3 linked regions of the Homo sapiens genome follow. The protein of the gene in region 3 purifies or fractionates together with the protein of the main gene of each other region. This does not show direct contact. Each region holds a gene or a part of one and is shown on either strand. Other genes may lie near its edges.

The links. The genes of interacting proteins can lie anywhere in the genome.
Region 1: the proteins of ENTPD7 (region 3) and CERT1 purify together in Homo sapiens (affinity purification with mass spectrometry; 2 studies listed by BioGRID and IntAct, with this or other methods). This does not show direct contact.
Region 2: the proteins of ENTPD7 (region 3) and DAGLB purify together in Homo sapiens (affinity purification with mass spectrometry; 2 studies listed by BioGRID and IntAct, with this or other methods). This does not show direct contact.

What each region holds. Positions count from the first base shown.
Region 1 is NC_000005.10:75,501,623-75,508,648, forward strand, and holds part of CERT1 (ceramide transfer protein), read right to left. Parts: intron 4,495-7,026; coding exon 4,360-4,494; intron 1-4,359. UniProt on the Homo sapiens protein: Shelters ceramides and diacylglycerol lipids inside its START domain and mediates the intracellular trafficking of ceramides and diacylglycerol lipids in a non-vesicular manner.
Region 2 is NC_000007.14:6,430,948-6,437,973, reverse strand, and holds part of DAGLB (diacylglycerol lipase-beta), read left to right. Parts: intron 1-1,440; coding exon 1,441-1,612; intron 1,613-2,953; coding exon 2,954-3,212; intron 3,213-5,014; coding exon 5,015-5,137; intron 5,138-7,026.
Region 3 is NC_000010.11:99,704,503-99,711,528, forward strand, and holds the end of ENTPD7 (ectonucleoside triphosphate diphosphohydrolase 7), read left to right. Parts: coding exon 1-181; 3' UTR 182-6,739; downstream 6,740-7,026. UniProt on the Homo sapiens protein: Catalyzes the hydrolysis of nucleoside triphosphates and diphosphates in a calcium- or magnesium-dependent manner. Preferentially hydrolyzes nucleoside 5'-triphosphates, with substrate preference for UTP > GTP > CTP.

The DNA.
Region 1 (7,026 bases), on a different chromosome or scaffold from region 3:
TAATTTTAAACAGAGGATAAGAAGGACAAGCCAAATGCCCAGAAGAGAGTCCAGAAACAACCTTAAATAAATATGGGACCGTAATATATGATGAAAGTGGTGTTTGAAACCACTTGGAAAAAGGTTAGTTATTTAATTAATGCTACCAGGATACATAATTAGTCATGTGGAAAAAAAACTAAAAACATCAATATCACTCCTTAAACTAAAATAACTTCCACAGGAATCAAAATTCAAGTGTAAATTTTAGATGAAAATATATCTACATTCATATAGAGAGATAGTCTTTGAGAGAGAAACACCTATCTAAACAAGTAAATACAGAAGCCGTAATAAAAGATGTCAATAAGAGTATGTAAAAATCTAAGATTTCTCTAGGGCCTAATATAGACTATAAAACAAGCAAAGAAGAAACAGACAAGTGACAATGTGGGGGAAAATATTTGCAACAAATGTGCCAAATGGTTAATTACCATATGAAGAGTTTCTACAAGCCAAAAAGGAAAGAAAAACCAAAAAAAAAGTGCATAAGCAATTGGAAAAGGAAAAAGAAATAAAAATGGGCTATAAATTATTAAGTTACTCAACCTCATGGATAAAAAGTGCAATTTAAAATAATAAGATACCATTTTAATGTAGCAGTTTGACAAATACTTTAACATTTGCCAAACCCAACTTCCTCAATACTTGCGGGTAAGGAGAAACAGAGGCACTCATTCACTACTGGTAGGAGTGAGGAGTGGTACTCTTGAAGGAGTATTTGACAATAACTAAAAACAAATTTTAAAGTACATATTTGTTTCAATAATGATTGTAATAAAAATTAGGCATGATTTAAATGTGCAAAAACAGGGTCCAGGCAAATAAATATAATATATCCACACGATTCAACAGAATATAACAGTTAATGTGTAAGTTGTATTAAAACAAGGTGCAGAACAATAGGCTTAATATGATACCATTTGTGTAAATATTTATGAAAGATATAAACAAATCCTTGTATAGTCCTACATATTTTCTGAAAGGATGACCAGAAATTTAAGTTTGGTTGTCCCTCAAGTGCAAGACTAAAAAGCAGCATGTACTTCTTAAACTTTTTAATGCCACAAATTATATTTTTTATCATGTGCACTTTATTTTAAAAATAGAATATAAAAAGTAAACAGTGTAAATATTCCATAAACATTTGCTTTTAATTGAAACAATTACAACTAACATATTCAGAATATCTACTATGCGGCAAATTTTGTAGCAGGGGCTGGGTCTTCTAAGTATCAAGCTATAATAACTGAAGAATTCAACTGTCTTTCTACAAACACTTATTCTACATACAAATAGCTCTTTTTACACAAAGTAAGGGAATACTATTTTTCCTCTCACCTACTTACTGTCAATCCTTTCACATTAAGGAATAAATTCTCTCAAGACATACTTTCTTCCTTGAAATTATTTCACCCACTTTATTATCACACAGATAAAGAATATTGTTTTTATAAATTAAGAGTGATTTAATCATTAAACTAAGAATGAACTTAAAATGGATTAGGCTCTATCAAGAAATGTGGGTTCAGATGCTAGGTCCACCAACAAATAATATAGTAATGAATGGTTACAGTAAAGTCACATCAACTCTTCAAGCCCAGATTTCTTTGTACGTGAATATTATCAATTTCATAAGAGTGCCATATAAAGAAATTAAACATTTACATTCTTTGTATTCTGACATGAAGTGACAATAGGCATAGCCCATATTTAAGGAAAAAAAATACCAAGAGATGCCTATTAAAATTTAATGAGGAATATTACTATTACATTTATTTATTTAACTAAAGTACATACTCTAATTTGTAAACTCATCCTGAGTTCACTGAATTCAGTTATATTTTTAATTTCCTTTAAATATGTAACATGGAGTCTGTGAACCCAAAGGGCAAGGAAAGTTCAAGTTCAATAATATAAATGCTTGTGTTTTTTCCTATCATCCATTTCATTGTATCTAAGACTACCACACAGATTTTGTTGCCTAATTCATCTTTTTACTTCTACTTTTATCTCTCCTTCAAAGAATTCAAATTGTTTCTTGTTCCTACGCATGTCTTTTACTATGTACCACAATGAAAGTTATGCATGTACATATAGCTATAACAAAAATCAATTACAATAAAGTAACACTGTTTTCTTCCTGAGAAGATGGATATAAATGTTAAAATTTAAATTTTTTGTTTAATTTAAATTAAACATTTAAATTTTTTGTTTAATTTAAATTAAACATTTAAATTAAATGTTTAATTTAAAATTTTCTTTTCTCCAAATAAGCCAGGCAACATTATTATAGTCCATAATTCAAGACAGAATAACTATATTTAAATCCACAGAAACTAGCATGGTACTCTAGGAATACTACTACTTAGAGAATAATAAAGATAAAATTTAATTCCTCCCCATTTTTACATCAATCATTATACTATTTTCAAAGAGTTAAGCATTGCAACTAATAAACATCCAATAATAATACGCAAAAGAAGGGGAGTGGAGGATCAAGGAAAAACACTTCAAGATCGCAAGGTACATTTCAATCCACTATTCTGTCCATTGATATGAATAATGATCTATCTCGGAAGAAAAACACCCAAAATATTAAACTAGATACAATTTCTAAACACATTACAATGTACCACATACCAGTCAAAATAAATACTGAGCCTTTATGTTAAAGCTATTTCCTAAAAATTGTCTCTAAGAATAGAGAGCGTAGTTTCATTATCAACACTTCCAAATATTTCTTCTGTGTTTCTCTAACTTGATATTCAATTCTAAACTTTTGTTTTCAAACTTTGAATATACAAGGGGGGAAATAATGTATAAAAAATAATGTAAAAATACTGTAAGATTTTCCCTAAATGCATAACAAACATACGCTAAGTAAGGATTAGATATTAACGGAAATCTGAAGTATTATATATATATCTTTCACTTTTATAAGCCAAATAAATTCTATCACAAAATGTGACTTCTCTTTGAGTGAGTTAGTAAACTCTGTATTTTTGTTTTAACGTACCCATTTTCAGATTTTAACTACAACAGCTCCCTTAACTGACCTCTATTTAACTGTCTGGCCTTAGCCAACACTTTTTTTTTTTTTTTTTTGGCCCATGGCATGCTGACCATTCTTAACCAGTATGCTATTTTTTGTATTATCAGGTACTTCTGTTCTCACTAGTTGGGTTACATGCTTAACAAGTCAGTTGGTTGTTCCCAAACCTGTTTATGCCAGTTTACTTGTTATAGTTCTTACATATCTTAAACATTATTCATGTCTAATGACTACGAGTGCAAAAAGGAACAGTTGTTTCTATATACTAAGTTAAATGTAAACTAAGTAGGCCAGGCGCGGTGGCTCATGCCTGTAATCCCAGCACTTTGGGAGGCTGAGGTGGGTGGATCACTTGAGGTCAGGAGTTTGAGACCAGCCTGGCCAACACAGTGAAACCCCATTTCTACTAAAAATACAAAAATTAGCCGGGCGTGATGGCACGTGGCTATAGTCCCAGCTACTTGGGAGGCTGAAGCAGAAGAATTGCTTGAACCTGGGAGGTCGAGGTTGCAGTGAGCTGAGACCACAGAACTGCACTCCAGCCTGGGTGACAGAGCAAGACTGTCTCAAAAACAAAACAAAACAAAACAAAAAAACAAAAAAAGAACAACAAAATGTAAACTAAGTAGAATGACTCAACGAAGGTGAGTTATTCTTTTAAAGGGTGTTGAATTGGAGAAAAGTGATGTAACTGCAAAATATAAGGGGAAATCATAAAAAGTTAGAAGGAGCCTATACTTAGAGTTTTTCAAAAGTTATCTTCAGGCTTTTATTCCACATTAGAGAAATCAAAACTGTAAATAGCAAATCATGTGTGAGGAACATGAGAACAGCTTCTCCCAACTCCACAAAGAGATGGCATTAGCTCAATGTTAAAAAGTTTAAAAATGAATTTACATTTATATTTTTAAGTTAAAATTTTAGAATGTTACTTACAAGATGTATTATTTTTAAATATTCAGTAACCTACAAAGTAACTGTCCCAGCCTCAACAAATAAAAAGGCTTCAAACATTTTTTTTTCCTGAAGCCCTTAAACTGGTTTGATATACCCACCAGATAAAAACTACATGTCTATGCAAAATAACAATATGTAGTAAAAACCACAGTAAAATCACTTTATGGAAAAAAGTATTAGAATGTATATTCTACAAGGACAAGGATCTTTATCTTATCCACGGATGTATCCTGAACACGTAGAACAGTTCCTGGTATGTAGCTGACACTCAATAAATATTTGTTGAATGAAGAAGAAAAGGAACTTACTGTGATGACAGCCTTGCTAAGACAGATGGATCCTCTGCAGCCATACTCTGTTTCATCTTCAGATTTGTAGTAACTCAGAGCATTATTTTTCAAAACTACCCAACGATCCTGCCACCCATGAATGTAGTTTGTCCACTGGGAGTGGGAAGGGGAAGGGAAGAGAGAAGAAAACAAAAAATAGAAGTATTTTAGAAATCCAAACTTTGTGAAACAGCAATCTAATTTTAAAACCAAAACGTGAAAAGTCCAACTTAATTCTAAGCATAAACAGTAAAATGATTACAAAAAGTGAAAAGTTGAGATTTTCTAGATTGCATAATGATTTTCAGTAATTTTTACAATATTATAAATAAATCTGTAAGAAATAAAATATAACATTTTCTTCTAACATTTGAAGAATAAAACGAAAGCCAGATTTTGGTTAAAATTATTGTTTATTCTTCGTATGCTTTCATCCTCTCCTAAGTACCTTCATGATATTTGTTTTGGTCCTTGTCATAATTAACATATTCAACAGAGAAGTATGTTCAGTTATGTATGTAGTCTCTCATTCTGACACCAAAGACTGCATGAAGCCTTCTAAATCAACGGAAGTATAAAGTCAATTATTGCTAAACTCTACTTTTGTTGTTATTCCTATATGAAAATTTATAACAGCTGTAACTATATCAAAATAAAAATAATAATCTTTAGTAAGCTGGCATCAACTTTAACTTTTCCTCTACAGAACTGAATAATATTAAAAATGGCCAATACATTTTCCAAGTTCCTCTGAACATGCATTTTTCAAACTCAAGAGTAATAAAACAAAAATAAAATTGCTTTTCAAAAACATATTGGATTGTCTTCAATACCTTAAGAGTTTCTGTGTTGCTAAAGTCTTGCTGCAAAGTGAAGATCACAATAAACTGGAAAAGGCAGAAATGTAACCTTTACAGGAATACTTATTTTTGCATGTTTTTATCTATGCTCTGGGGTGTTAAGTATAGAAAAATCTCAAAAACTATCTGCCAATTCCAAAAACTAATTAAAAATGGATTGCCAAAATATACTGCATTGGCTCAGGCTCTATATCCACTGAGAAATCTTTTATTTTTCTGTTCTCTAATTAAGCATTTTTGAGATTGATTCACTTCTTAAATTTTCTTTTATTTAGTATTTTCTTGAGACAGGGTCTCGCTCTGTCACCCAGGATGGAGTGCAGTGGCACCATCTCAGTTTACCGCAATCTCCTGGGCTCAATCCTCCCACCTCAGCCTCCCAAGTGATTGAGACTACAGGTGTGCACCCCCACATCTGGCTAATTTTTTGTAGAAATGAGGTTTCGCTATGGTGCCAAGGCTCGTCTCAAACTCCTGGGCTCAAGCGATCTGTCTTCCTTGGTCTCCCAAAGTGCTGGGACTACAGGTGAGCCACCATCCCTAGCCAGTTCTTAATTTTTCTAAGCCCCATCATTACAACCACTCTCTGAGAACTCACCCAAGCCAACATTTAACTCATTCTAGTGGCTCCCAATCACCATTTCCTTATTTCTAACTGCTTGAGATGTACCACCACTTAGACACGGGCTTGAAATAAATGATAGTTACCAATAAAACTGAATTCACCTTCCTATAAAGTATACTTCCTTCCTATTTTCCTACTTCCTTGGGGAGACTGCTACTTCTGCTCAGAGTTAGTGTATTAGATATACAAACAGATTAGTGGATATAGGATAAAATAGGCTCAACTATTTTATAACTCATGTGAAGAGAGTTTTGACAAGTTACTTTTGTAAACTTCAGTTTCTTTGCCTGTTGACTGACGGCCGAATAAAATAATGAAAATGCCTAGCATAGTCACAGAAGATACTCAATACCTAAGTGTTCCTTCTCAATATTTATAGCCCATTACCAAAAGCTGCTCATCTTTCCTTCATAGTAAACCCTTAAATTTGCCTCCTCTTCTCATTTTCAACTATTCCAATCAAATTATCCAGTTCCTGTATTCCTTAGGAGACTTAATAATTTTTTCTCTAGTATCTTCTGTTTTTTTCATAATTTACACAAGCTTATTTACTTACTAAGCATATTTGCCTACTTTTCTTACATTGATCGTATTGAGTCTCTAGCTCCAAAACTTACATGGACAACTTCCCACTGACTGTCATACAAATTGTTTAGGGCATTCAAGACCCTTCATGGATTAATCCTACCTCATTTACAATTACCACACTTCATAAGGCTAAACTTTGTGACAGTGGTCAAGTTACTTATTCTCTTTGTGTTCTTTTTTTCTTTGTCAAATTCTCTTAGAGTTAAGTTTAAACAAGAATAGACTTAGAACAGTGCCTGGACATAGTATTTTCTGAATCTGAGGAAGAGTTATACATAGCTAATGAAGCTTAACCTTCAGCATTTCTCACTAGAATAGAACTCTTTCAATGTTAGAGGAGAAGCCCCAGCAATTATGTATCCATAACTTAATATTAGTTCTTATAAGAGACTGAACAAACTGTATCAGCTTCAGGACCCTTTACTCAGTAAGTATTAGCTGTATCATGACACCTGGAAGACAAGTTTTTTGTCTTTTCTCTGCTCTCATAATGTTCCCTCACTCTTCCCCATTTAACAAATACAGATAAGGCAATATGCTAGACACTGCAGGGGAATCAAATATTACTGTGGC
Region 2 (7,026 bases), on a different chromosome or scaffold from region 3:
AGATAATTTTTTGAATTTAAAAGCTATTTCCTGGTAGGGTGCTGTGGCTCATGCCTGTAATCCCAGCACTTTGCGAGGCAAAGGCGGGCAGATCACTTGAGGTCAGGAGTTCAAGACCAGCCTGGCCAACATGGTGAAACCCAGTCTCTACTAAAAATACAAAAATTAGCCAGGTGTAATGCCTCTAATCCCAGCTACTAGGGAGGCTGAGGCAGGAGAATCACTTGAACCTGGGAGGCGGAGGTTGTGGTAAGCTGAGATCACACTACTGCACTCCAGCCTGGGCGACAGAGTGAGACTCCATCTAAAAAAACAAAAACAAAAATTAACCAAAAAACGCCCACAAAAAAACAACTGTCTATGGGACTATGAGGCCTATTTCAGCGTGGTGGTGTGCACCTGTAGTCCTAGCTACCAGAGAGGCTGAGGTGGGTGGATCACTTGAGCCTGAGAGGTGGAGGCTGCAGTGAGTCATGATTGTGCCACCACACTCCAGCCTGGGCAAGAGAGTGAGACCTTGTCTCCAAAAAGAATGGTAGCTATTACGCTCTCTGAGCTTCAGTTTGCTTGCTCATACGTAAAATGAGATAATGACTAACCCAGTCATTGTGGGGATTACAGAACTACGCACATAAAGTGTTTTAGGTTGGTGTCTAGAACAATGTAGGTCTCAAAGGGACGTGGAGCTTGTTTTCATGGCTGTTAGAACTTGGGTGACCATATATCCCTGTTTGCCTGGGACAGTTCTGTTTTGTGCCTGTTGTCTCAGCATAATTATTACTATTATTATTATTATTATTATTATTATTATTATTATTTTGAGACGGAGTCTTGCTCTGTCACCCAGACTAGAGTGCAGTGGCGCAATCTCAGCTCACTGCAACCTCCGCCTCCTGGGTTCAAGCGATTCTCCTGTCTCAGCCTCCCTCGCAAGTAGCTAGGATTACAGACGCCCGCCACCACGCCTCGCTAATTTTTTAATTTTTAGTAGAGATGAGGTTTCACCATGTTGGCCAGGCTGGTCTCGAACTCCTGACCTCAGGTGATCTACCTGCCTTGGCCTCCTCCCAAAGTGCTGGGAGTACAGGTGTGAGTCACCGTGCCCGGCCCCAGCATAATTATTAATAGTCCCCTTTTTTCCTCTCAGAAGTATACCAGTTTGGGCCATGATTATATTGTCACCCCAGTGAGAACCCAGAAGTGTTTTTAATCCCTGCTAAATCTTAAAAAAGAGCCCAGGACTTCTTGTCACGTTTCCCATCCTCATTTTCTCACTTGCTGTCTGACTTAGGTGCTGATTACCAATTATAAGTAGAAAAAGTCAGGAGGCGGGTGTGCACAGTACAAATGTATGCTCTGCAAAAGCTGTATTTTTGCAAAAAGGAAGCTCTTCATCTCTGAGGAAGCAACTGAGCAGTCGGAACGTTTTTTGTATTTCAGGAACGATTTGTAACCCTGGACCGCGGAAGTCTATGTCTAAGCTGCTTTACATCCGCCTGGCGCTGTTTTTTCCAGAGATGGTCTGGGCCTCTCTGGGGGCTGCCTGGGTGGCAGATGGTGTTCAGTGCGACAGGACAGTTGTAAACGGCATCATCGCAACCGTCGTGGTCAGGTGACATCTCCCTTCTTCTCTTTGAGTTTCAGTGGATTTGAGGCATAGGTGAACAAACCCTTCTAACATGACAGAGAGTCCAGCGTCCCTCGGACTTCCTCAAATAGTTAGAAATTGGAGTTAGTTTCTGCGTAACTCATGAAAATTTAGAGACACTGTTTGTCCATGAAATACAACTCGTCTTTCGTTATGCACGTATTGATGTAGATTTCTTTCCTTACTGGTTCTTTATTTTCTACATTCCCTTCTGTCTCTCTCTCTTTTTTTTTTTTCTTTTTTTCTTAAAGTCTTTTATTCCTAACCCTTCTCTTATAAGAATTCGGAAGAAAACCAAAGACCAAAACCAGAGCAAAAACTAAAACTAAAGGTATGAAAAGAGATACGGTGTCCAGAAGTGGGACAGGGAATAATATTCTAGAACAATAAGGTTTTCGTGTTTTCTAGGCTAAAAATCTTAGAGATGATCCAGTCCCGCCCCCTTAACACCCTCTGTTCTAAATAAGGAATCAGACCTGGGCTGTTGCTGCGTTTCTCGAGTCACACCGCCAGGGGGCAGCAGAGCCCCTTCGGGAGGGGCATTTCCCGGTTGCGTGTGCTCCTCAATCCGGCGTCTTGCAGTGTGAAATATTTAAACATATAGATGAGAGGCCTATCAGAGTACTCTGTGATACCTTCATGAGAAGAGCCCTGAGGCACCGAAGGGGAAGGGCGTATGTCATGGTCCCAGGGCCATATGGAGAAGAAGTGCCCGCTGCATCCGGGCGCAGGCTGCAACTCTGCCCAGCGGACACCTCCCTGTTCCTTCTGTGGCCTTTACTGTTAGGGCAGGGCCTGGGTTAACCACTGATTCATAAGGAACTTTTTTTTTTTTTTCTTTGAGACGGAGTCTCCCTCTGTCGCCCGGCTGGAGTGCAGTGGCGCCTCCTCGGCTCACTGCAATCTCCGACTCTCTGGTTCAAGCGATTCTCCTGCCTCAGCCTCCTCAGAAGCTGGGACTACAGGCACGTGCCACCACACCCAGCTAATTTTTGTGTTTTTAGTAGAGACGGGGTTTCACTATGTTGGCCAGGCTGGTCTCGATCTCCTGACCTCGTGATCTGCCGGCCTCGGCCTCCCAAAGTGCTGGGATTACAGGTGTGAGCCACCATGCCCAGCCTCATAAGGAACTTTCTAGAAGAAAGTTGCTTGCCTCAGGCAGGTTCCAGGAGAGCTGCATCTTCCTCGGTAACAGAACCCTCCGTGGTAGAGACTCAGAAACTGAACCTGGAGGAGGGACCCCGGACATCTGCGTCTGGGCTGGGGCCCGCAGTCACCGAGCCTTTTCCTCTCTCTGTCTTGCAGTTGGATCATCATCGCTGCCACAGTGGTTTCCATTATCATTGTCTTTGACCCTCTTGGGGGGAAAATGGCTCCATATTCCTCTGCCGGCCCCAGCCACCTGGATAGTCATGATTCAAGCCAGTTACTTAATGGCCTCAAGACAGCAGCTACAAGCGTGTGGGAAACCAGAATCAAGCTCTTGTGCTGTTGCATTGGGAAAGACGACCATACTCGGGTTGCTTTTTCGAGTACGGCAGAGCTTTTCTCAACCTACTTTTCAGTAAGCCGAGGGGATCTGGTTTGGTCTGTTTCTTCTGTTTCAGTAAATGCTTCTGATGGAGCCGGTCCCTCTGTTCCCATAAAACCGCGTTTGAGAACCTGGTGTCTTTGGGTGTGTGGGGGGTGGCCGGAGACCCTCTGTCTGTGATGAGCCCTCCAGGGAGCAGTTAACTGCAAGAGCCACACCTTCTCAGACCCTGTGTCCCAATAGGACATGTCTTCGTATTGACACCCACTCACTACCCTGTCAAAATGCTGGATTAGCCTGTAAGGAACCACATAACGGACGCTGTACCCTTTGAGAATAATTTGCAGCTGCTGTTGAGCAGATACCAAGCACAGGCAGTGGCATGAATCGAGGTTGGAATCAGATAGTGAGTGACTTCTTACCACTTTGTATCATGATGGAAATGATCGACGATGCTACTTTTGGAAGACAGTTTGAATAGATGATTGCAGCACAGAAGGGAGCGTCATTCTAGAGCGAGTTCTTCCGCAATTTGAAAATGCTTGTTTTTTTTTTTTCACATGCAGCGTGTCATCTTTTTATATGACATTCTCTGCTAAATGCTGTTAAATTCCATACTGAGATGAGGTAAGGGAGGAAGAGTTCTCTGCTTATCCTGCACACCTGCCAGTCTCTCTTCCCACCTCTGTGCTATCCGACTTGGCACCATTCAGGGCTGGTCCTGGAGCCTGACACCAAGTCATAGCAGCAGCCTCCGTAGAGGGAAGAGGGAAGCGTGTCCCCTCAGTAACTTAAAGAAGTGCTTAAACCTAGTCTTAAGATATCTGGAAGAGGGAAGAAGAGAAGCTGGTTATTTCTAGAGGATGTCGTAATCTACATCACAGGCAGAACTGATGGCTCAGTGGCTGAGTGGCCAGTATATTGTCTTTTTTTTTTTTTTTTTGAGACAAGGTCTCGTTTTGTCACCCGGGCTGGAGTGCAGTGGCGCCATCTTGGCACAACCTCCACCTCCTGTGTTCGAGAGATTCTCCTGCCTCAGCGTACTGAGTAGCTAGAGTACTACAATAGCTGGGATGACAGGCACCTGCCACCACGCCCAGCTAATTTTTGTATTTATAGTAGAGACAGGGTTTCACCATGTTGGCCAGGCTGGTCTCGAACTTCTGACCTCAGGTGATCCGCCCACCTCGGCCTCCCAAAGTGCTGGGATTACAGGCGTGAGTCATCGCACCTGGCAGTATATTGTCCATTCTTACGGGCTACAAGTACCCGGAGGTGATTGAGAATTCCTAATTCCTCCATTTCCTGGAGAAAAAGGACATGTCAGGCCTAAGAAGACTCACTCTCTGTTGCTTTCCCAGCTTGGGGTCCTTTATGAGGCTTGCCATACCCTGTGAGTATGAGTTTAGTCTCATAAATCTCTACCATCCACTGTGTTTCAACAAAACCTTCCCAGCATCTTGAGAAATGAGAGTATAAACGTGGGCTAAAATGGTGCATTGCTACAAAAACGGACAATTTATCCATTGATTTCTCCACTTTACAAAATATTTGAAGTAGATTAAAAATAGTTGAGTCACATGAAGTGAAATTTTAAGACAGACGAATAGCATTTTTATATTCTCCAGTGGACTTGTCTGAGGGCAGGATGTGAAAACATATTCAGGTCACATAGAGAAGCACTCCTGCCAGGAGCAGTCTTTTTAACATACCTCTGTGTCTAGAAATGTCTGTGTGTGCGTGAATGCCTATCAACTATAGAAGACTGGATTTTAGGGAACCCGGGGGTGGTGCCTGCTGGGTTTTATGACAGGCCATTGTGGTTTCCCACCCAGGACACAGATCTGGTGCCCAGCGACATTGCGGCGGGCCTCGCCCTGCTTCATCAGCAACAGGACAATATCAGGAACAACCAAGAGCCTGCCCAGGTGGTCTGCCATGCCCCAGGGAGCTCCCAGGTGAGCCTGGCTTCATGGAGTGTCCAGTTCTGACACTTACACCTTTTGGTGGGTCTTCAGAATCATACAGCTAACCTATAGCAATTTCTTCCTCCCTTCCTTCATTCCCCTTTCCCCTCCCTCCCCTCCCCCTCCTCCCCTTCCCTCCCCTCTCCCACCTTTTTTTTTTTTTTTTTTAAGACGGAGTCTCGCTCTGTCGCCCAGGCTGGAGTGCAGTGGCACAATCGCGGCTTACTGCAAGTTCTGCCTCCCAGGTTCACACCATTCTCCTGCCCCAGCCTCCTGAGTAGCTGGGACTACAGGCGCCTGCCACCACACCTGGCTAATTTTTTTTCTTATTTTTAGTAGAGACGGGGTTTCACCGTGTTAGCCAGGATGGTCTCCATCTCTTCACCTCATGATCTGCCCACCTCAGCCTCCCAAAGTGCTGGGATTACAGGCGTGAGCCACCGTGCCCAGCCTCCCCTCCCCTTTTTTTCTTTTTCTTTTTATGAGATGGAGTTTTGCTCTTGTTGCTCGGGCTGGAGTGCAATGACACAATTGGCTCACCACAACTTCCACCTCCCGGGTGATTCTCCTGCCTCAGCCTCCTGAGTAGCTGGGATTACAGGCGCATACCATCACACTCAGCTAATTTTTTGTATTTTTAGTAGAGATGGGGTTTTGCCATGTTGGCCAGGCTGGTCTCAAACTCATGACCTCAGGTAATCTGCCTGCCTCGGCTTCCCAGAGTGCTGGGATTACAGGCATGAGCCACCACACCGGGCCTATTTTTCATTTTTTTAACTTTTATTTTAGGTTCAGGGGTACATGAGCAGGGTTGTTACACCGGTAAACTCATGTCACGAAGGTTTGTTGTACAGATTATTTTGTCACCCAGGTACTAAGCCTAGGACCCTACAGCAGTTTCATTAGCAGCAGGGTTGGAATCTGATTGGCGGCTTCCACTGGTTGTATTGCATCACCTGTCAGGTGAGGCATCTTCGTTATCAACTGGAGTTCAGGTAGTGGGAACCCATTCCTGGCCACTTTATCATCCATCATATCTTTATTTTTTATTTTATTTTTTGAGACAGAGTCTCTGTCACCCAGGCTGGAGTGCAATGGCATGATCTTGGCTCACTGCACCCTCTGTCTCCTGACTTCAAGCAATTCTCCTGCCTCAGCCTCCACAGTAGCTGGGACTACAGGCGTGCACCACCATGCCCAGCTAATTTTTGTATTTTTAGCAGAGACGGGGTTTCACCGTGTTGGCCAGGCTGTTCTCAAACTCTTAGCCTCAAGTGATTTGCCGGCCTTGGCCCCCCAAAGTGCTGGGATTACAGGCGTGAGCCACTGCATCCGGCCACATTTATCATATCTTTGAAGGCTTATGTTTTAGGAAATTTGCTGTTCAATTCTATGCATTAGAACAATTCCTCCTGGGATGGGGACTGCGATTCTCCCTGGGTGTGTTTGCTTTCTTCTCTGGGGCTGGGGGCAGAAGCAGTTCAGCTTTGCTTGGTGATAATTTTCCTGCCACAGGTTGTTATGTTTTTGAGAAAGAAAATTGCACGTAGACGGTATGTATCTTCGCTGCTCCGGGTTAAGCCACTCAGTTCTTGACAGCTCGTGTGTGGCAGTGGCATGGAAATGTACTAGTTTCAGGCATCTAGATAGGAAGCGCCGGCTCATTTCAGCAAAAACAGCAGAGAAGTCATTGGAGTGTTTTTTACTGTTAACTTCCCCGTGCTTGCTGTGTTCCTATAAAATGAGGAGTCAGGCTGGGCGTGGTGGCTCACGCCTGGCTTCCCAGCACTTTGGGAGGCCAAGGCAGGTTGATCACCTGAGGTCGGGAGTTCGAGACCAGCCTGGCCAACATGGTGAAACCCCGTCTCTACTAAAAATAC
Region 3 (7,026 bases):
CTCCTTTGTATACAACCACTATCTCTTCTTTGCCTGTATCCTGGTGGTGCTACTGGCCATCTTCCTATACCTTCTGCGGCTACGCCGAATTCACCACCGACAAACACGAGCCTCAGCTCCATTGGACTTGCTGTGGCTTGAAGAGGTGGTGCCCATGATGGGAGTACAGGTGGGGCCGTGAGGCTGGACCAGGACTAGAGAAGCTTGAGCACCCCCGAGTTGCTGCTCATTGAATTCCTCCACTTTCTTATATAGCCTCAGATGCTGTGATGTCTGACCTTGTGGATATTTGCCCTTGGAATTTCTACTTTACTTTCTACCGTAATTCCTTCTCCGTACCCAGGTCTTCTCTGAGAGAAGCTATAATTTAATCTGTGAGGAACTAAATGACAGGAGATTGGTGCTAATACGGGGGACCAAGCTTTGTCCAAGTGAAGCAGGCTTCGACTCCTTCTGAGAGGTCTGGTGTGTTCCTAGAATCTCACCTTTTCTTCCCTTGCTAAAGCATGAAGTTTGGCATTTGGCACACTGGAAGCCTGGTTGAAATGAAATTTGTAGCATCTGATACAAAGCCAGAGACATTCTAGCAAGTGCAGCAGCCCCTTCTTTCTCTGTAACAGAGATATCATTTATGTGGAGATCCACAACCTTTAACAGGGATCCAAGATCTTTGCAGTTCAATCGACCACATAGGAATTTCCAGGCACCAAAATGATATAACTTCCTTGCTTCCTTGACAAAGAAGCCATCATGGGTGTGATCCAAGATCCCTGTCGTAGTGTTGATGATGTTAGTACATGATTTTAAAGGTTAGAACCCCTTCTAAATGAATGGTCTGTGGAAGATTTTAGTATCTTATCTGATGCCTGGTATGATGAGGATAGAAAATTTTTCCATTTTTATGTGCCTCACAGGCTGTTTGGGCATTAATTTTGCTTTTTGAGCCTTAAGTGTGTTAGTAGGATGGAGAAACTGTGATGGGGACTGGGAACCTGGATTTGTCTGATTTTAGGTCACTGTTCCCTGGGCCTGTTTTTGTGAGCCCTTACACAGGAAGATATAAAGAGAGTTCTTTCATTTCACTGCTAAAATCAGTATGTAGTATGGGGAATGTATTTGGGTTGTTTTTAAAGAAAAGGGGAACAGAATCAGGAGAGTGGGCAAAGGCAATAAAATCAAAGTTCTTATTAATTATTTCTGAGAAATAGAAGTTTCTCAATTTATGACTCTTGGAATGTCTGAAAGGGAGCAAATTTGGAATAGATCAATCTGTTAATAAGCCATCTGGCAACTTTCAGAACCTCTATTAAGAGACTGCTGAGTCACAAACAGCACTTCCATTAATGAAGCGAGAGGAAAAGCCATAATAATTACATCTTCACCCACTACCCTTCCAGAGCTTTGCTTCTCCTCCACATTTAGCCATTAAATTGCATGAGGATTTCTCTTCATCAGGGTCCGCATGGAATCTTTCTTATATTTTACCCTTTCCTACATGTAGCCTTGAATGTCCTTTCCACGAATATGCTCCCACGGCTGGGAGCATTTTCTTTTCTTTTCGTCACCTTTGATTTTTGGGATTAGATTAATAGGGGAAAAAGTCCCTGGCTTTAAAGAAAACAAAAGTAGAATTCTTCAAAAATAAATTTCATACTGGGAACAGAAAGGAACTAAATGCTTCATAAAACAGGGAAAAAGAAATTAAGATCATCCTAGAAATAAACTAAGATAAAAATAAGTATACTGACCCTTGGTTGGTAGATAAAAAGATGACCAGTCTTGTATTGTTTTAAAATTAGATAAACATGGATTAAGCATGCAAAGACTCTGTTCCTTTTTTTTTTTCTTGGAGACAGGGCCTCACGCTGTCACCCAGGCTGGAGTGCAGTTGTGCAACATCATGGCTCACCGCAGCCTCAACCTCCTGGGCTCAAACAGTCCTCCCAACTCAGACTCCAGAGTAGCTGGGACTACAGGTGTGCGCCACCACACTCAGCTAATTTTTTATTTTATTTTTTTAGAGATGGAGTCTGTGTTGTCCAGGCTGGTCTCAAACTCTTGGGCTCAAGCAATCCTCCCACCTCAGCCTCCCAAAGTGCTGGGATTACAAGCATGAGCTACTGCACCTGCCCTCTGTTTCCTTTGGAAATCTCTTACCTTTCATTAGGGTTTCTTTCATAGCAATTTCCTTTGGTTTTTAAGACTTCTACATTGCTTTTTCTTTTATTATCTGTGCTCCGTGAACCTTATGAATGCTGCTTAAAAATAATGTCAAAATATGTTTTAGCTGCCTACTCAGGTAACGTTTTCTTTTGCTCTCATCTTGGTTTCCATATACTATTTTTGGTTTTTTGTGAGATCTAATCAATGATCTAGTCAGAAGCTACTTCACTGGCTAACAGTGATCATGTTCATGTGCTAAAAATGAACTTGAAACACGGAAGTAGTGGTTGGTCCAGTTTGAAAGCTCTTATTAGTATTCTTCATCCTGGCTGTAATAATAGCCATTATTTGTTATGCCTTTGTTATGTAGCAGACACTCTTAAGGATTTTATGTGTATTATTCAAATTGCTATTACTGTTCTTTTTATAGTTGAGAATCTCAGGATACCTACATTTATCACTTTTTCAATATATATGTATTTCTTATTCTTATTTTGTCTTGGAGTGTTTAATGTGTTATTTCCTGTTCATTACTTTAATATTATGGTATCTAGGCTTGTCTTTATTACCATGAGCAAGGTCTCCAGGAGTTCCACAGTACTGAAGGAAAATTTTGTCATATCCCTCAGAAGAACTGAATATTTATTATTGGTATGGGCTCCTTTGTTTATTCTCTTCTCCCAATTAATAGATTTTAAATGAAATCTTATTAGCTAGAAACAAAAGCCACTTACTCCTTGCTGAGAGCCAATTACTTAAATATATTTCTTCCTTATAATAAAATAATTTGCTTCTAGGAGCAGAAATCTATCTTGCCATACCCTTTGGTTTTTAAAGATTTCTCTTCTATTTGCATTTCTGCACTTTGGTGGTTCTCCCATGAAGATAATTATGGTGTCATAAAATTCACATTCCACTGGTTCCTTTGAATCTTACCAACCACTCTTGTTAACAGAGACAATGAACCTGAACTGTTTTAGGACTCTTGTTATTACTGAGACAGGTCACAAACATCAAAATAGGAGTCCGTGGCTTGTAGTGATGCTTTTTAGTCTTGTGATAGCACAATCCATCACTTTCCCCAAAATTCTTGTCATAGAACATAATGAAAAATATGTAAAATACCCATTTATGTGGCATTTCATTCACTTAAGTTGCAGTTAACTCTAAGCCAAATTATACCATTTTTTCTCTCTGTACTTTAGCTCCTTGAATTTCCTTAATCTGGGAAACTTTTGTTCCCACACCAAGGAACAAATTCAGGGGGTACAAGTGCAGGTTTGTTACATGAGTATATTGAGTGATGCTGAGGTTTGGGGTACAGATCCCATCACCAGGTGGTGAGCATAGTACCTAACAGATAGTTCTTTAATCCATGCCCTCCTCTCTCCCTCCCTGCTCTAGTAGTCCACAGTGTCTATTCTGGTCTGGGAAATTTTCATCACTTTCCACCAATCTTCTATTTATTCTCCAAATGTCTTCCAAAGTATCCTGCCCCACCCCCTCCTCATCCTAAGAGATTCCTTTAACTTCAAGATCATATCCAGTGATTGCTGAAAAATGTCTGCCATGCACTTGCTAAGCTAGTGTTTTTAGGCATTAACATTTATTATCACATCCATATTTATATTTTTGAAATAATTTATACTTCTCACTGATATCATCTAAACAGATGCTTCTCACAGTTTTATGTTTTGTTTTTTGTCAGGGATGAAAGACAAGTGAGTGGTATCACTTAAGGGAAAGAACAGTAGGCTTAACGAATAGCAGACCTGGATTCTAGTTCTGGCTTTGTCATTTACTAGCTCTGGTACCCCAGGCCAGTCACTTACCATCTCTGGTTCGGTTCTCATCTATCAAACAAAGAGGCTAGACAAGATTAGAAACTAAAGGCAGAAGACAAGGTAGAAAAATCATATGATTTTGGGAAGAGCATTTTGTCCTTTGGTTTAGAAGACCAGGCTGCCCAAAAGAGCCTCCTATTTTATCCATAACCCCTGATGATAAGGTTGGTGGGAACAGAGTTTCTAATAGTAATCATAATAAATTTCAGAAGAGTTTTAAAGCTTCTGGTCAACCCCCTTGATTTATATGGGTGATAAAACTGAGGCCTAGAGCAGTTGTAATATGTGCAAAGTCATAGTGACTGGCCTCCTAGCCCAACTACTTTGTCAGCTACAATGAAATGCTCATTAACAGAATCTTTCTGCAAGTATAAACAGAATCTATTTTTTATAAAACAGCTGGCCACAACTAACCATGCCCCATCTTTACAACTGCTTCTGACATTCATTTATGACTGCTTTGCTCACATTTAGGAATAAACTTTGAAAAAAATACTTTGTCAGAAATAGTGCCAAGTTTTCACTACATCTATTCTTGTTCCTGTATTTCTTTTCGTACTTTTAAATTTTATACATCTTTTTAAAACAATTTTATACAATTTCCTTTACTACAACATCCAAGCAATTCATTAGATGACTACAGCCTAGATGAAGGTATAAATGCCTATTACATCTACCTCATTAAAGAACTTCGTTGTAATTCTTGGGCAGTTTCCAGACTCTGTTACAGAAACAGAGGGCTGTTTCTTTTTGTTGTCTTTAAACTTTTCAAATTAATTCAAAACTAGTATCTAATTGTCCTTTTTGCTGTGGTATGTGGTGTAATGTTGATTGGGAATAAGAATTATGGTAGAAATAGCAGATGTTTCAAATTCTCCCATATTAGTCTCTTAGGGACGCTAGCTCCAGATTCCAGCCCCTGGGGCAATAACTTGTGAGGATTTTCCTGGTGTTACAAAAAATATTGCTGTTAAAAAACTAAGACTCAAAACCAAAAGTTGTGATTAATAATAACAGGATTATTAGTCAATAATATTTTGATTAATACTATAGAATAGCAACAGTGAATATACCTCAAATTGAAAACTTTTAGGTTGTGTTCTTGGCTCATTCTCTCATAACCTGGATCTAAGTTGGAAAGCTGTGGCACCCTGTTTGGGTGTCCCATCTACCCTGTTTTCTGTTTCTGCAGATGGCTTGTTCAAGCTTCATTTTAAGCCTGCTCTGTCTACTTATCTTCCTTATATCCTAATAGACTTCTCTTGTGTTATTACACATTTCTCTTTTGCTCTAATATTTCATTATTTTCCAGTTTGTCAGTACCGTTATCAGAGGGACGAGGAAGGAATAACACACCAGTTGACCATTTTGTTTCTCTGAAAATCTGAGCAATACGGAGATCCTTTTATTAGTAAAACTGAATCATTACTCATACTACAAGGGCTTTCACTTTTAAAATGTAATCCATCATTGCTTGCCATTTTTATGAAAACCAAAGTTGAAAAGTCTTCTGAATCACAGGCTATGTATAGCCACACATGCATGACTTCAGGCTAGCATAAAGACATGTCTGCTCCTGAGCCTCTTCTTTTAAAGGGCAACCACTTGTATACCCTCTGGTGGCCACTCCTCCTTCTCCACTCCAAGGCAGCCCTGGTACTTTCCTAAGTGGCCCCTCCTACAGAGCACTTGCCGGCATTTGGCCTGCTGCTGGTGAAGACGCCCCTTACTAGCTTCATAAATGTTTTTCTGCAAGCAGGGATCCCAGACACATACTTTGGTTTCTAGTGTTTCAGTTACTATGTTGTATTTGAAATTCTCATTCCACAATTACCCTTTAGTTGAAGTCCTGAAGTACATGCCATGTACTCCCCCTTTATTTCTACCTTGATCAATGGCCTCTGCGGAGTGTAGTGAAAGACATCTTTTTATTATGATCTACACTTTAAAAAACCAAAGGCTGCCTGTATTACATTGCTTTGGGGAGTTGTTAAGACTCTGTTTTTTCTACTGCTTCACATTAAACAATAATTTTGTTGAATTTTGAATTCTTAAAATTCTCACTGACAAACATTTTAGGTCAGTGTTGAGGAAAATGTGTGATGCATGTTAGAGAGGTGATGCATTCTCCCTTATGCAGGGACATGGGTATATGTGTTACATATGCTGATATATAACCCACCATTCATCCCAGGACCACAAGGGTAGCTGTAGATAAACTGGTTATCCTAAAATCATGATTATCAGTGTTGATCTCTGCAACCAACATTGCTTTAGGGAGTTGCTAGTCATTACCCCTGCTACAATAGATAGTATTTGTCAGTCTAAGTTACAGACAAAAAATTCTAGGTTGACTGATTAAGAAAGCCATGTGTTTTAATTTCCTTCATGTTTTAAAAACAATGGACGTAAGTGCAGAGAGACCTTTGAAAATATTAAGGGAAATCTATTTAATCCTATAGGTATGTGATGACTTGTTTTTTTGGAAAAAGGTATTTGGAACATCAATCTGTAATTATCCATTTTCCATTCATGCATTCACTAATTCAATATTTGATATGTGTCTGGGAGTGCTGGGAATAACATAAATACAAAAAAAACCCTAAGATAATCATTCACCAGAAGCTCATAGATATAATACAGTTATATAGCTAAATGCAACCAGTTGTTTTTCCAAATGTACTCATCATCTGTAATAAAAGAAAAATGAAGTAAAACATCTGAAACCTTAACTTACTCATGAGTTGCTACTTCCTTGGAGGCAACTGTAGAAGCATTAATATATGGTTCTTTGGGTTGGGTCATACTGCCCTCTGCTGACTCAGTTACTAACTAAGGACAACCTGGGTTTGAGGATCAGGAGAGGATGGTGTGGGAACCTGCCTCAGGAACTACAGTTCCCTTTCTTTGAAGGATTCTATCCAGAAGAGACCATATCCTACTAACATACTAATAGGAGCAACATAGCAGATCAAATGATAAGGTGGGGTGGAAATTAGAAGGGAATGGGAATAAGCTA